Linked DNA regions of Homo sapiens: region 1 is linked to region 2. A link means that fine-mapping ties the variant in region 2 to the expression of a gene that starts in the linked region. Tissue or cell type: whole blood. Region 2 holds a variant in brackets; the other region holds the start of a gene. All regions are shown on one strand. Distances are between the middles of the regions.

Region 1 (8,088 bases), 31 kb after region 2:
CTCTCTCTCTCTCTCCCACCTGCAGAGAAGCAGCCAGGCAAAAGACAGTATTCTTTTGTTTTATAGCACTTATTACAATTTGTAATTATATTTTACTTGTTATCAACTTAACTATATCTCCCTAACTAAACTGTAATACCTCAAGTGAAGGGATTGAGTCTGTCTCATTCACTTCTGTATCCCTAGCATCTTGCAGATCCTAATAAATGTAGCTATCCAACACTTATTGAATGAATGAATGCCTGGCAAACCACTCCGGGAGAACGTAATGCAAATTAAGCCATATTAGCTAGACCTCAGAGGTTTACTGCCAGGTTCAAAGGGAGGGCAAAGAACTTGATCCCTTCCCAACATCTCAGCCCATGCCAATTCAGTCAAGTTCTCCCAGGAAAGGAAACTTGTACTCAAGGCACAGGGCAGCTCTTTGAAAAAGGAAAAGATTCCAATAGGGCCACCATAAATTTATGGCATTGGCCACCTCCCATTAGGGCCCCAGGAGCCTGCCTATCTATCTAACATTAGGCTTTAATGGAAAGACTTGACCCAGCCATAAACTTACAGCAAAAACTGAGGAAGCCAACCTTAATTAAAGGTAAAACTAGCCTTCTTCCCGAACAGTAAATGTGCCACAGACAGCTGCAAAGCATTGTCTAGAAAATGAGGCCAGAGGACAAGGAGAATTCCAAAACTAAAGTTAAAAAACTCTCTTGGGCACGGTGGCTTATGCCTGTAATCCCAGCATTTTGGGAGGCCGAGGTGAGCAGATCACTTGAGACCAGGAGTTGGAAACCTAGCCTGGTCAACATGGCGAAACACTGTCTCTACTGAAAATACAAAAATCAGCTGAGCGTGGTGGCATGAGCCTGTAATCCCAGCTACTCGGGAGGCTGAGGCAAAAGAATCGCTTGAACCTGTGAGGCAGAGGTTGCAGTGAGCCAAGGTCAGGCCACTGCACTCTAGCCTGGGCGACAGAGTGAGACTCTGTTTCAGAAAAAAAAAAAAAAATCGAAAGTTAGAGAACGCTGAGAAGAGAAGGTCTCTGTAAGCATTCTGAAATCCTGTAGAGAGCTCTGATAGCCAGATATTTTAAAAAAGAAAACAATAGGGCCGGGCGCAGTGACTCACGCCTGTAATCCCAGCACTTTGGGAGGCAGAGGTGGGCGGATCATGAGGTCAGGAATTCGAGACCAGCCTGGCCAACATAGTGAAACTCCGTCTCTACTAAAAATATAAAAATTAGCTGAGTATGGTGGCACGTGCCTGTAGTCCCAGCTACTCAGGAGGCTGAGGCAGGAGAATCACTTGAACCCGGGAGGCGGAGGTTGCGGTGAACCGAGACCATGCCGTTGCACTCCAGCCTGGGCGACAGAGTGAGACTCTATCTCAAAAAAGGAAAGAAAGAAAGAAAGAAACAAAAGAAAAATATATCACTCAAGGGGCCAGAGTGCCCACACTGGCAGGGCAAGAAGAAGACTCTGGAAGGGTCAAAATGAAATTCTATCCAGTAGTGCTGCCAACTCCACTCTGCCTTGGAGCCGGTTTAAGTCACATAGACATGTGGGAAGGACACTCGGACACACATTCCCCAGGGGTACCTTGAGGGAAAGACCCAACATCCAGGAATCAACTCACAGTAGGCCCAGGCAATGTTCAGTGATTATGAATGAATTATAGAAAAATAATTAAGGAGACTTCTGACATCATCTAAGAAAAAAACCTGGAAACTGAAAAGTCAAGCTGTTATTCTAAAGCTTTGGCTGCCTCATAGCTGACTTCTGATTTTCATTAATTTCTGTATTTCTCTATGGGGATTAAGACTAACACCACTGGGTTTATTTTGCAGAGAAAAAGGAAGAGGAAAGTAGCCTCACACTAGCTTTGTGTGGAGTTGGGCTAATCCCTGTGATAAACAGAGAGCTGGATCTAAACTTCCAAGTGACCCCAGAGGCACCCATAAAACAGCAACTTTTTCTCCTCTGCTCAAGCCCTAGACTGAGTCCCTCACTTACCTGGTCTCTTTTCTTCCAACAGGCTCCACCTCTGCATTGTCAGTGTCACTGCTTTCATACCGTACAGGGATGTCCGCTGCCAGTGCCAAGGGAAGGAGACTAAGTCCATCCAGCCACACAGCCTCTTCTAGGGCCACCTGAGCACCAACAATGCCCAGGCAGCGCTGTAGCTCAGGCAGTGTCAATGGTCGCAGCCAGGTGGCCAGCTCCTCCTTTACTTGCTGCCTGCTCCACTGGGCCTGCACAAAAGGGCAAGCTGGGCATGGGGGCCTGTGATGGAGCCTCCGCTTCTGGGGACAGCAGTCAGCATGGGAAGCACTGTCTAACAAAGAGCTGTCTGGAGGAAAGGCCTGGACAATGGCACCTAGCAGGTCCAGATGGAGGTGGGTTTGGACCCAGGGTGCCCAGCAGTACAGCTGCTCCAGGAAGGGCAGCAAATCAAGGTGGCCAACTAGCAACTCACGATATGGAGGCAGTAGACCCAGTACTGCATGAAGATAGCGCCAAGCTGCAGGGCTACTGTCCTGCAACACAGCTGAGAACAGAGTTCGGAGCTCAGCTAGCAGGAGTTCCAGCACTGTGGGCTGCTCTGACTCAGTCACTGGCTTCACGAACTGCCTCTGTTTCTGCTGGCAGGCCAAGGGCTGTTCTTTGCTGTCCAAGACACATATGGAGTGCCAAGACTTAAGGGAATCAGATGATGTCTCATCAGAAGACAAACCTACCCTCCTCTCCTCCGGGACCATGAGGAGCTGGGCATTCAACTGCTGTCGAAGTGACCTTGCCCATAGCTCAGGCTCCAACTGCCAGTTCCAGGATGCCAGATGCGGGGCCTCACCTGCATGGGCCAGCCCAGCAGAGGGGCCAGAGAAGGGACCTCAGGCTCTGGGCAGGGGATGGTCAGAGTCAATGGGGTTAGGAGGAAGAAAGGACCTGGGACAGGGAAATAGATGGAGCTACAGAGCAGAGCCAGACCAGCAGAGAGCCTTTCCTGAGACCCTCAGGCCCTCCCTACTGCTTCCCCAAAGACTCTGGTAAGGAGCAGGCCTAAGACAGACGTGAGAGCCCTCCTTGCAGAAGAGTTCCTTCTTACCTCCCAGTACCCTGTCCCCCTCACCTGGCCTAGGGGGGTTAGGAGGCAAGGCAAGGGAAGAGAGCCCGATCTGCTGATGAGGTTTCATTGAAGAGTGCCTGCTGGAGCAGTGAATGAACTTAGACTTGAGTTCCAGTCTGAGGCTCACCCTAATCATAGCCACCCATACACGGAGAGACTCGCACACAGACGTGCAATCACCTGAAGAGGCAAACTGACACACCGACAGAGCTCACTCTGAACCTCGGTCACAGCAAGGAATCTGCACTCGAGCTGGCGATCGCCTGAAAAACGGGTTAACAGGTCGTCACTCGAAGGCAGCAGAGCCCCAGTCCCATGACGTCTTCGCCCACAGCCTAAGGAGGTCGTGAAGACAGAAAGCCGAGGAGCAGGCACAGCAAATGATGGTCAGGATGCAGGTAGGGGAAGACGTTAACAGGCAAAGGAGGGGGCTGGGAGAGCGGGGAAGAGGAGGCGGACTCTGTGGGAGGGGGTCCTAGGGAACAAAGAGAAATGGATCCGGAGCCGAGGACTCACCCGCAGCTCCACCCGCACCCAGCTGTTAGAACCGTTACAAGATTCCAGAAGGACCGAGTCTTTGCCAGGAGCATCCGGGGGAGCCAGAAAGAGGAGGGGCCAGGGTCCGATATGGGCGGGGCCGAGAGGGCAGAGCCCAAGCCTGGAGGGGCAGAACTAGGTTCAACCTGTGGGCTAAGGCTTGCCTGGGACAGGGACCTGTAGAGGACCAGGCGGGGTCTGAACTGCACGTGCAGTACGGTTGACTCGGGAGACTAGCAATCCAGAGGGTGTCGTAAGCAGGTGTTTATATCCATTCGCTGAGTATCTAAACTAGTGCCAGGTCTTTGGTATGTCTTTGGTACTCCCCCATCCCCACCCCCAACGTATCCATCTACCCTATCCCACCTCCCCAAAAGAAGCCCGAATAAAACAAAATCCTTGATCTCAAGGAGCTCAACATCTATTTGGCACGGGGGGAGGGGGATTTTTTGGGGAAGGGCTTATGGAGGGGCTAATTTTTAAAAATTAAGTTGAATGAGGCCGGGCGCGGTGGCTCATGCCTGTAATCCCAGCATTTTGAGAGGCCGAGGCGGGTGGATCACGAGGTCAGGAGATCGAGACCATCCTGGCTAACACGGTGAAACCCTGTCTCTACTAAAAATACAAAAAAATTAGCCGAGCGTGGCGGTGGGCGCCTGTAGTCCCAGCTACTGGGGAGGCTGAGGCAGGAGAATGGCGTGAACCCAGGAGGCGGAGCTTGCAGTGAGCAGAGATCGCGCCACTGCACTCCAGCCTGGGCGACAGAGGGAGACTCTATCTCAAAAAAAAAAAAAAAAAAAAAAAAGTTGATGATTAAAATAAAAAAAGAAATTCAGCCCACCTCTCCTCTGAAATCAGATTAGTATATCCAACTGCCTACTTAATGTCTCCACCTGGAGAGCTTATAGGTATCTCAAACTTAAAATGTCCAAAAGCAGGCTCCTAACCACCCTTTCCCCACCAAAGAAATGCTGCTCCTTTCACTGTCTTTCCCACCTCAGTCAATGGCAAATCCATTCTTTCTGGTTTCTCACACCAAAACCTTGGAGTCAGCTTTGAGACCTCTTCCAAACCCCTTCTTTCTCTTTCCCTCTTCTTTTTCCCTTTCTCTTTCTCTCTCTCCCCCTCCCTCCATAAGTAATCCTTCAGGAAATTCTGCTGGTTGTGCCTTCAGAATATATCCAGAATCCAACTATTTCCCACCATCTTAAGTACTACAACCTTGGTCTAAGCTGCTATCATTTCTCACCTGGGTTTTTCCACAGCCTTTGAACTGTTCTCCTTGCCTCAGATCCTTCTCATGCTTCTCACCATTGCCCCTACAATCCATTCTTTTTAGAGCAGCCAGTGATCCTTTTCAAATATAGGCAGATCCTATAACTCCTCTGCTCATAGCTCACTAATGCCCCCTCATCTAATTCCTTCAGCTGAAGGCCAAAGTCCTATCATGGCCTACAAATTGCTGATAACTGCCTGCTACCTCTGTAGGCTTCTCTCTTCACATTCACACTCTACTACTGCTGTGCCTGAATCACACCAGCCATACCCCCACCTCACAGACTACATACAAGCTGTGCTGTCTGCTTGTGTATCAGTTAGGAGATACACAAGTTATGACTGTTATTTATTTATTTTTTTGTAGAGACAGGGTCTCACTATGTTGCCCAGGCTGGTCTCGAGCCTCTGGCCTCTAGCAATCCTCCCACCTCACCCCTAAAGTGCTGGGATTACAGGCGCGAGCTATTATGCCCGGCTGTGATGGTTAATTTTATTTGTCAATTTGACGGAGCTAAGGGATGCTCAGATAGCTGGTAAAGCATTATTTCTGGGTGTGTCTTTGAGGGTATTCCTGGAAGAGATTAGTATTTGAATAGGTAGACTAAGTAAAGATCATCCTCACCAATGTGGATGGGCATTGTACAATCTGTTGCCTAAACAGAATTTAAACAGGCAGCTGGTGGACTTGCTGTTTTAGCTGAGACATTCATCTTCTGTCCATGGACATCAGTGCTCCTGGTTCTCAGGCCTTCAAACTTGGATTGAATTCCACCACCAGATTTCCTGGTTCTCTAGTTTGTAGACAGCAGATTGTGGGACTTCTCAGCCTATCAGTTCTGTTTCTCTGGAGAACCCCCACTAACGCGCAAGTTTTCTGGAGCTGCATAACAAGTTATTACAAACTAAGCAGCTTAAAAACAACACCTATGTAGTACCTCACAGTTCTGTAGATCAGATGTCCAGCATGACTTTACTGGATTCTTTGCTCAGGGTATCATAAGCCTGAAGTCAACATGTTGACGGGGCTACTCATCTGGTGGCTCTAGGGGGTGGGGGGTGTGGGGGGATCCACTTCCAAGCTATTATTGTTGTTGGCAAGATTCAGTTTCTTGCAGTTCTAAGACTGATGTCCCTGTTTTCTTCATGGCCATTAGCCAGGAGCCACTCTCAGGTCCTAGAGGCCACCTGTCTTCCTTGACATGTGGTTCCTCCATTTTCAAGCCAACAACAGTGCCTCTAACCCTTCTCATGCTTCACACTTTTCTGATGTCCCCTTCTGCAACCATAAAGAAAACACTCTGCTTTTAAAGGGCTCATGTGACTCATGTGACTAGATCAGGCCCACCCAGACAATCGCTCTTACAGTCAACTATGCCATATATTATAACCTTCTCACATAAGTAAAATTTGTCACATTCACAGTCCCATGGAATATGCAGCGTATACTAGGGAGATATATACTAGAGAGCAGGAAATCTCAGAGACAGTGGTCCCCAACCTTTTTGGCACCATGGACCAGTGTAGTGGAAGACAATTTTTCCACGGACCAGGGGAGGGGTTAACGGTTTCAGGATGATTCAAATGCATTACATTTATTGTGAGCTTTACTTATTTTACTATCACATTGTAATATATAATAATTATACAACTCACCATAATGTAGAATCAGTGGGAGCCCTGAGCTTGTTTTCCTGCAACTAGACAATCCGATCTGGGGGTGATGGGAGACAGTGACAGATCATCAGACATTAGATTCTCATAAGGAGCATGCCACCTAGCATGTGCTATTCACAATAGGGTTCATGCTCCTATGAGAATCTAATGCCACCAATGATCTGACAAGAGGCAGAGCTCAGGTAGTAATGTGAGCGATGGAGAGTGGCTGTAAATACAGATGAAGCTTCACCTGCTCACCCACCACTCACCTCCTGCTGTGTAGCCTGGTTCCTAACAGGCCATGACTGGTACCAGTCTGTGGCCCGGGGGTTGGGGACCCCTGATCTAAAACTTCTACCTACCACACAAATGCTGTAATAAAAAGACCCAAAATATCATGGCTTAAACATGATAGTTTATTTTTTTCTCTCACATAACCATCCAAATATAAGTACTCTGAGGCTACCACGGTAGCCTTCAGTTGTTCTGCCTTCTCCAAGGAAGTAGTCCTCATCTTTAAGGTCCAAAATAATTTACCACCATGTGTGCCACGTCCCATCCCAACTAGTGAGATGGAGGGAAAAGGAAAGGAGAAGGCATACCCTTTCTTTTAAGGGCACAGCCTGGCAACTGCACACATCAATCACATGACCAAGCCTAGCTGTAAGGAAAGCTACAAAATCTAATCTTCATTTTCAGTGGTCATATGCCAACAGAAAATTTAGAGGTTCTTTACATAAAGAAAGGAGACAATGGATACTAGAGGACCACTAGTGGTTTACACAACTAGTTGAACAGTAGAAGAGTGAACACTTCTTCAAGATGCTCTCAAGGCTTACTCTCTCAATTCTCTGCTCAAATGTCACCTTATTAGTGAGTTCTTCCCTAACTGCCCAACAGAAAATAGCAACTCTCTCCCCAACATCCTTATCCTCTTTACTTGCATTACTTCTCTCCACAGCACTTATTACCACTTCATATAAATACTTATTTATTTCCTATTTCCCCTGACTAGAAATATAAGCTCCATGGTAGCAGAGATTCTGATTGCTGCCTACTCTATCCCCAGCTCCTATACTAGGCACCATGAGTACATGATCAGAAAATATTCATGGAAAAAAATACATAAATGTATAACAATCTTCATTTGTGAGTAAGAAGATGGGCTCTGGAATCAGACTGCCTGGATTGAAATCCTAACTTCATCACTTACTAGTCATGGGATATTTTACCTCAGTTTCACTTTTTGAAAATGAAGATAATAATGTCTACCTTATAGTATTGTGAGGATTAAGTGAATTAATGCACACAAAATGCTTTAGAATAGAGCCTGGTAAGTAGTAGACATTTGATATAATTGTTAAGTGTTTAGTTGTTATTAATTTTGACATAACGATGAACAAGACAAAGGATTCAGTGAGGGCATGAATAAAGAGCATGGACAACTCTTTCATAAAAGGGCAAGGAACGGTACCTGAGTCACAATAGTCCTTA
Region 2 (8,104 bases):
AAAGTTCAGAGATGTTAAAATATGCACAGAATAGGAAAAATACAATATAGAAATATGGTACACCAAATAGAGTATAGAGTGCTTTCTACATACCAGACACTATTTCAAGTACTTTAATTATATTTTATCCTCACAAATTCCCTTTGAAGTAAATACTATTATTTTACAGATAAGCAAACTGAAGCTCAGAGAGGTTATGTCACTTGATCAACATCACACAGTGGCAGAGCAAGGATTCAGACTCAGGCAGCATGGCTCCACTTCATTATATTTTAAATATAAACATGTTTATGTTATAAATATAAATGTAAACATAAAAATATATGTTTATAAAAAGTATTTAAAAATATTTTTTATGTTATGTGCAAAGTAAACTGACCGATCCTCTATTAGCATCTCTGCAACTAGTAAGTAAAATAGTGAGTTTGGGGGACAGATAATTGAGACATACTGGGTATGTCACTTTCAGAGACTTGGAGGAAGTAACCAAGATGACTGGGTACTAAGACCTGATAATAAGAAAACCTGCTGAGAGGAAGCCTATTGAGGGACAACCTATATCAAACAGAACATGAAGATCTAAACTCATCCTTTTTCACACTGTCCCTTTGGAACATAACAGTAACTAGGCCATTGCAATGCTGCCACATTTGTTTGCTTGTTTGTTTGTTTGTTTGTTTATGGTGCTGCTTTTGGACCAGTAGCAACAGGCAGATGAAGGCAGATGGGAGCTCAACAGTGACACCGTATGGTATAAAGGAGCAATGCATTGATAAAATACCAGGACTCCTTGGGATTAGAAGCTGGAGATGGATAAAAACAGATTTAAGAGATACTTAGGGGGCAGAAGAATGACAAGGATTTGGAGACAGGTTGGATGTAGTAAGGTCAAGGAGAGGGAGGAGTAAAGGGTGACCCCAAGTTTCTGGTGAAGCTAATTCGTCAGAGTGTATAATTACGCCATTTGTTGTTCAAGGGAGTTCAGGAAGAAGAGAAACGACAGAGTTAAGTCAGAGGGTTAGATAAAATTAGATCAGCAAGAAGGATGAGAGTAGATACAAGGGGATAAGGTGAAATGAAAAAAATATTAAGCACCTACTGCATGCCACACTCAATGCTAAGAGTATTGCAAATAATATCTTAGTCATCCTTACTATAACCCTGTGAGTGACTGTGTTATCATGCCCAGCTTACAAATAAAGAAACTAAAACACAGTAATCTGAAGTTACAAAGCAAGTGAAAAACAGACAGGGTTCTAAATCCAGTGCTCATTTCTCTCCACCTGCTCCTCTTAAAGAGACTAGTTGGTCCTGGATTGAGGATCAGGAAGCTAACAAACTAGAACAACAATAAGCTTTCTCAGCAGCAGTGAAGTAAAGCCTGACCAAAACACGGCCAGAGAGAAGACAAAACAATCAAACGTCCTCCCGGTTCCTGCCTTGCCCGCCTGAACCCCCTGTACAAGAGGAGGGAGTTTTAGTGGCCCACTGGATACCTAATGATACATGTGCTTTCATCTGTTGAGAGCCAAGACAGGGAAGGCGAAGCAAGCAGGGCATACAAGCAAACTCTTTCCAGGCCCCAGTGGCTTCTAACCTTCATAAAGAAAGCAGGCCTGGGAAGCCACGGGTCCAACAGGATCTAGTCTTCACAGGAAGTAGATACTATTGGCTATTGCCATCCTTGAGGCTAGGTGAGGAAAGAGAACAACCTCCATATTTCCTAAAAGAACAAATCACTGGCTTCCAAATCTACCCCGCTGTGAGCCTCTCTGTGGCGAACTCCTAGGCTGAGGCACTAGCTAGTACACAATAGCATGAGATATCCTTCCCATGGGAAGGAAGAAAGAAAAGAGGGTAAAAGACTAGGTCATAAGCCAGATTTCTCAGAGACCCAGGGATAGCAACAATTGGGCGTTCAATTAGCAGGGGTAGAAGTGGCAAGAGGAGGGAACCTGAGATGGGTTGAGGAGAAAATAGGTAGTAGAATGGTCTTGAGCCCCACTTTCCACATAGAACTTTGGGAAAGACCACCTTTTAGGGTGTCCCTTGCTAACATGAAACAGTCACAGCAGAGTAGAAATCATACTGTTATGTGTTGTAGTAAAAAGAGGGGCGGATATAATGCTTACCAGTTTCCCACAACTCCCAAATGGCAGGGGATATAGATGATAGCAGAGAATTGATAGCCAGTGGCCTAGATGAAGTTCCTGTGTTGAGGGGCTAGGGACCCTGAAGCAAAAGCCATGGGGGTAGCCAGCCTAAGACAGAGACTGGATGAAGGATTCACTAAAACCCCAAGGATCAGCTATGCCAGCAAATGTTAAGACAAGGACAGGTCAGCAAAGACAGACACTCCAGGTCCCTATTAGTCCAAGAAAACACATCGCAGCTCTACCAGCCCAGGACACAGCAGCACCAGAAGCAGCAATGTCAGGAGGGCAGAGACCAGGCAAGGATGTATCACACCTCAGAAGCCAGCCCACCGGCCTTCCCCAGTACAGGTGGCACCTTGGGAAGGAAAAGGGAGGAAAAGACATTTGAAAGTAAAAACAACCCAGAACTACAGTATAAATTTTCAATTGCCCAGATATCCCAAATAGACTGAATCAGACCAAAAGTGACTGCTTTAAATGAAAGGAGCTTTCTTTAATTGGAAAGGTTACATTCTTTCACTACCAGTAGAAGTTAGGACTACAGAGTAAGACAAGCTCAGTTAGAGAGTAGCTTTTTACATATGCAAATCGTAGTATAAATTTCACTCAGCTACATGCAGAGAGAAAGCACCCTAGATTCCCAAGAATCTCTGTAAAGACACTGAGCTTAGTAGCCCAAGCACAGGAACATGATTCCTAAGGAATACAGGGTATGAGCAGAGCCAAAACAGAGAGGCCGGCCTTTGCAGTGAGCATAGCTTTGATGGCAAAGGAAAGGGCCTGGGACCTCGGGCTTTGGAAGGCTTCATAGGTCCAATAAGAGGCCTGCACCGAAGGTCTCCGGAGGACATTCCAGGACCAAGGCAGGCCATGTGAATAGACATACAGAAAAGGGAAGGAGGAGAGGGAAGAGAAGCAGTACTCACCCATCTCTGCCTGTACATCATGGCAGCTAAGTAGCAGCAACCCGCCTTTTGTGAGCAACTCGATAGGCATACTGGAGACACGGGCCTGCCAAACATTCAGGCGGCTCACCAGCGTCACGTAGTTCTTGATGGGACCACCTCTCATGTCTTCCAGCTTCTGAGGCCCCCAGGATTGCAGGAATTCATAAATGCCTGTTATCCAATGATGTTCCCTGCAGAATTCCTGCACCTTGCACAGCACGCCCTAAGGGCAGACAAGGTGTTTAGGGCAGAGGCATGCGGCTATAATGGGAATTGGTGGGCAGCGCCCTATCCCTTAAACCACTGTTCTCACCTCCAGCAGCACCTGTTGTATATTCAGTGCCTGCTGGATCTTAGGGTTGTTGTCCAGGTCTTCCTCCAGCTGCTTATAATTGTGGGGGAAGTATTGGCCCCGCAGCCGACATCCACGGACCTCCAAGATACCAGCAATTGGGTGAGACTTCCAGGGCCACACCAATCCCACATTCGGGCCACAGAAGATGCTCACAGCATCGCTGGGCTGGCCCTGGAACTTGGGCATCAGAAATTCGTCTTTTGAGTCCTCCTCTTCATCTTCTTCTAGTGGAGCACAGGCCATAATTGTCCGTGAGTACCCTCCAGAGCCCACAAACAATCTTCCTTTCTCCTTGCCCTCAGTGTGTGTACACACACACACACACACACACACACACACACCCATTCGCTGCTCATGAGTGAGTTAACACATACATCTATATCACAAA[C/T]GTAAAATACTAGACCCATGGAGGGGATTTATTAGTTAGGGTTCATGTGCAAATAACATAATTTACTCTAGCTAGTCTAAGCAGGGAGGGACTTATTACAGAATATTAAATGGGTTGCAGAATAATAGGAGAGCTAAAATACAAAACCACTCAAGGTTGAGCATCTAGGGCTGTGTTCTGCCTGGCAAAATGGGATATCACTGTCACACCATCAACTACAGAACACACTGCCTCTGCTATGATCCACAGAACGGATGGCATACGCCCTGACTCTTTCCCCCTCTTAATTCAATTCTGAATCAAAGTCTTTTGTAGATCTAACTGGTGGATCCTAAATTGTATATGACACCTAGCTGCAGGCGAGTCTGGGAAGTGTAGTTTGTAGTCTCTGGCATCTGCAGAACAGAGGAGTTGCTGGGAATGAATATTGAACATGCCAGTCCTCAGTTATCTGTCTTAGAGAATATTCTTGAACCTAGCCACTCATTAACTCTTTAGGAACTGGTTAATTGACAAGTTTAGTATTTGTGTTAAAACTTCGCACAAAATAAAGGAAAGAATTAAAATGTTCAGAATAAGAGCCATACTATCCACACCCAAACCCTGTAGTACTCCTAGCTGATCTCTTCTCTTCTCCAACTGTACTCACTCTCTAGGAAATCTCATCCAGCTTTATGGCTGTAAGTACCATATATTTGCTCCCAGATTTATCTGTAGCCCAGATCTCTCACTTAACTCCAATCCCATTTAAAGAACTGCCTAATTCACTTCTCTATCTGGATGTCTAACATGCACCTCAAATTTAACAGAGCCAAAATGAACTCTAATTCCTCCCCGCCAAAACTGCAGTCTTCCAACTTCAGTAAATGGAAACTCTGTTCTTCCAGTTTCTCCAGTCAAAATCTTTATAGTCACCTTTGACTCTTTTTCACATACAACACATCCCATTTAAAAATCCTGTTGTCGTTACTTTAAAAATATATCCAGAATCCACCAATTCTCACCACATTGACCACCACCTGCCCTCCTCCCCCAGCCCAAGTCACCATCATCTCTTACTGCATTATTGCAAAAGCCTTCTAACTTTTCTACCTGCATTGGCCCTTGCCTCCTATACTTTACAGTCTCTGCTCCATATAAGAAAAAGAATCATCCTTTAAAAAAAATGCCAGAAGGGATTCTGAGAAGATGATGGCAATGGCAGCATCATTTTGAAATCTCCCCCAAATGCCCACGTAAAAATGACAGAACAATTAGATAATAAAACCAAAAACACAAGGATAGCATTTTTTAACAAATGAGGGCAAGGGATCCTCACAGATCCTAAAATACAAGTAGGTGGGGTCAAACCATCTGCAACCTCAAAACACACATGGCATCACCATTTGTGATGAATGATGCAGAGGGAAACAATGAAGCAACAGATGGACCTAAGAATAAGAAAACCCCCAAACAGTCATCAAGCATTTACTGGGAGGCAGAGGGCCCATTTCAGAACAGCAGGTAAAACTGGAAGGGGGTCTTACCCCCTCCAAGAACAGGTGAGGTAAGGTCTATAGAAGCTTAAGTAATCTATGCCCTGTGTACTCTTGAAACCAAACAGTCAGGGCTCCCTTTTGGGACAGAGCTCGTCATGGAGAAAATGCTGGGAGTAGAATAAGGATTGAGCAGCAATAGAGAAAAAGGAAAAGTCTAGATGAAGGTAGGGGAGGGAAACCAGAAAACCTCAGAAAGTAAGCCATCTTTTTTTAATACAGAAAAACAATAGAAAGTGAAACTTAGAGGTTAGAGAACTATTTTGAACCAAGTCTTCTTTTGAAAGTTAAGAAAAGCTAAAATTTCCAGTTTTCTATGAGCAGTAGAAAAGTATCAGCATCAAACCCCATACCAAGCTTTTATAAGAAAAAAACAAAGCGAGGCATAGAATAAATCCCCAGAGACAATGAAAGCATGTCAAAAACCAGAGCAAAACTATAGCCTATTTCAAAACAAGCTAAAAGACAATAGAAAAATGATAGAAGTCATGAGAGGACACATATCAGAATTAGAAAAACTCAGAAATTATGTGACAGAACTATGGAAAGAATTATAAATGAAAGAAAAAACAATTTCATAATGGAAATTTAACTAAAATGGGACATAAGAGCAAACAAACTCGACAGATAATTTCTCAAGAAAAATAGAAGGCAAAATAAGGGTAATTATACAACTAAAAAGGAAATAAACAATTTTAAAGATTTCAAGAGAAAGGGAAAAATATTGGGGATGGGTGATAAGGATCTAATGTATCAGTAACAAGATTCCCCCAAGAAAAAAACAAAGCAAGGGAAGAGAACAAATATTAAAAACCGTAATTCAGAAAAATTGTTCTGAAATTTAAAAAAAGATATAAAGCCACATTTTGAAAGAACATACCTGACAATCCTTCCCCAGAATGTTCAATACCAACACATATTCTAACAAAAATAACTAGATTTCAATAAAAAAGAAAAAAAATCTAGGCAAAAAGAACAAGTGATTTTGTAAAGCAAATAAAATTAGACTATCGAAGGCTTTTTGATAGCAACTCATAATGTCCTAAGAAAACATAGTAACATATTTAAGATACACAAAGGAAAAAAGTATAAACCAACAACTTTATATCCAGCAACACTAACTTTCAAAAGGTACAAATTGTTATCAACATAGAAGAACTTCAGAATTTTGTCCCTACAAGCCCTTCCTGAGGAATTTAGTAAAAAGTGACCTTCAGACAAACAAAATTACTAGAAAGACATCAACACAAGGGCTGCTAGTGGGCTTAAAGATATTGTTACTTACAGAACTAAGATTAAGTGAGGGATAGAAGGGAAAGAGTATAGTATGAAATGACGATGTAGAGAATGCTGGTGATTATCTTGCTTGCCAGGTGGACAGAGCCTACCTGAAGAATGGAACTCTGAAGGTACATTGGTTGATTACTCAATAGCTATTCCCTTCTCCCTTCCTCTATTGTTGTAGAACCATCTCCCATGAGACACTGAGAACGTCAGCCATTTGATTTCCTAGCCTATCTTACAGCTAGAGGTAGACAGATGACGCAGATTTTGATGGTGAGATGTAAAAGTGAGTCTGATGGGGAGTTTCCGGAAAAGATTCCTTTTCCTGGCAAAAAGTGAGAGTCAGACACAGAGCTCTCTTGTTAACCTTGCCTCTCCTTTTCTGCCTGATTTTGCTTGAGAATGGGATGCTTGACATTGCAGCTTGTCTTGCAACTATGAGGCAACAAGCCTGAGAATGAAAAAACAAAAAAAATGAAAACCACTTTATTGTGGCCTCCTCCGCCACACATAACTCTCTTACAGAATCTGCTCTTAAATATAGCTAAAAGCAGGAAAGAGTGATGGAAAGATACAAAGAACCTGGTACTTGATGACCACTTTTGAGCCACAGAACAAACTCTGGAAGCACCTACTTCAAGACTTCTTGTTTTGTTTTGTTTTATTTTGTTTAGGCCACTGCAGCTGAATCTAGCTGCATCATGAATTTTTTAGTTATAGGTGCGTACGTAGTTTTGAGTTAAGATTACTTAATCCAAAATCAACCCCCATACTCAGGCCCATATAATAGACGTTTATAGCCAAACACAAGCATAGCTGAAGACTGCAACCTCCCCCACCATACACAGCCTTCTAAGAGGATCTACCCTTGCCTATAGCTAAAAGCCAGTTATTTTGCACCATGACACATCCCCTTGCCATAGCTTATGAATAAAGCATGCAATCTACAGGAGAAGCTGAATCAATCATACTCCTTGTCTTGAAGTTTGAACTAAATCAGTCTCACGGACAGGAAAACTCAAATATCATATAAAGTCAAGGATGGAGTCGGTGTCATAAAAAGTTTAAGTTATTTGAAAGAAGTAGTTATAAGGGAACAGAAAGTCCAAAGGAAGGAGAGATAACTGGACTCAGGAATCAGGGCAGAGGAACTGGAAAGATACACAGAGAGAAGAGATGAAAAAAGGGATAAGCAGAAATTTGAGAGACAGGGGTTCTCTTCCTGATATTCTACTTTCAAATTCTGTGAAGATGGGTGCTGTTACTTCTTCTCTACCTTTGAAGTTAGTAATTGTCTGTTTTGTGAGCTCCAAAATATAAGACAAGCTTGAAGAGCAGTGATTCTAGGTGCCAAGACCTATGAGAGTGCTCAGGCAATATGGTGCTATACAAAGTCAATTGTGATTCCAAGCAATGGAAAGAAAAGCTAGTCTATTTTT

Evidence for each region. PIP is the estimated chance that this variant, and not a neighbour inherited with it, causes the effect.
Region 1: DNHD1 starts here. The variant in region 2 is fine-mapped to the expression of DNHD1 in whole blood (INTERVAL, PIP above 0.99).

Annotation. Positions count from the first base shown.
Region 1 is chr11:6,492,883-6,500,970 of GRCh38, reverse strand. It overlaps DNHD1 (dynein heavy chain domain 1), which reads right to left and starts at 3,691. Exons shown (of 43, transcript NM_144666.3): 1 at 3,640-3,691; 2 at 3,304-3,386; 3 at 2,010-3,200. The coding sequence starts at 2,755.
Region 2 is chr11:6,524,100-6,532,203 of GRCh38, reverse strand. It overlaps DNHD1 (dynein heavy chain domain 1), which reads right to left. Exons shown (of 43, transcript NM_144666.3): 11 at 3,417-3,682; 12 at 3,083-3,326. Among named protein-coding and RNA genes, the nearest start is that of DNHD1, 31 kb to the right of the region's middle. The variant C/T (reference allele first, on the strand shown) is at 3,847.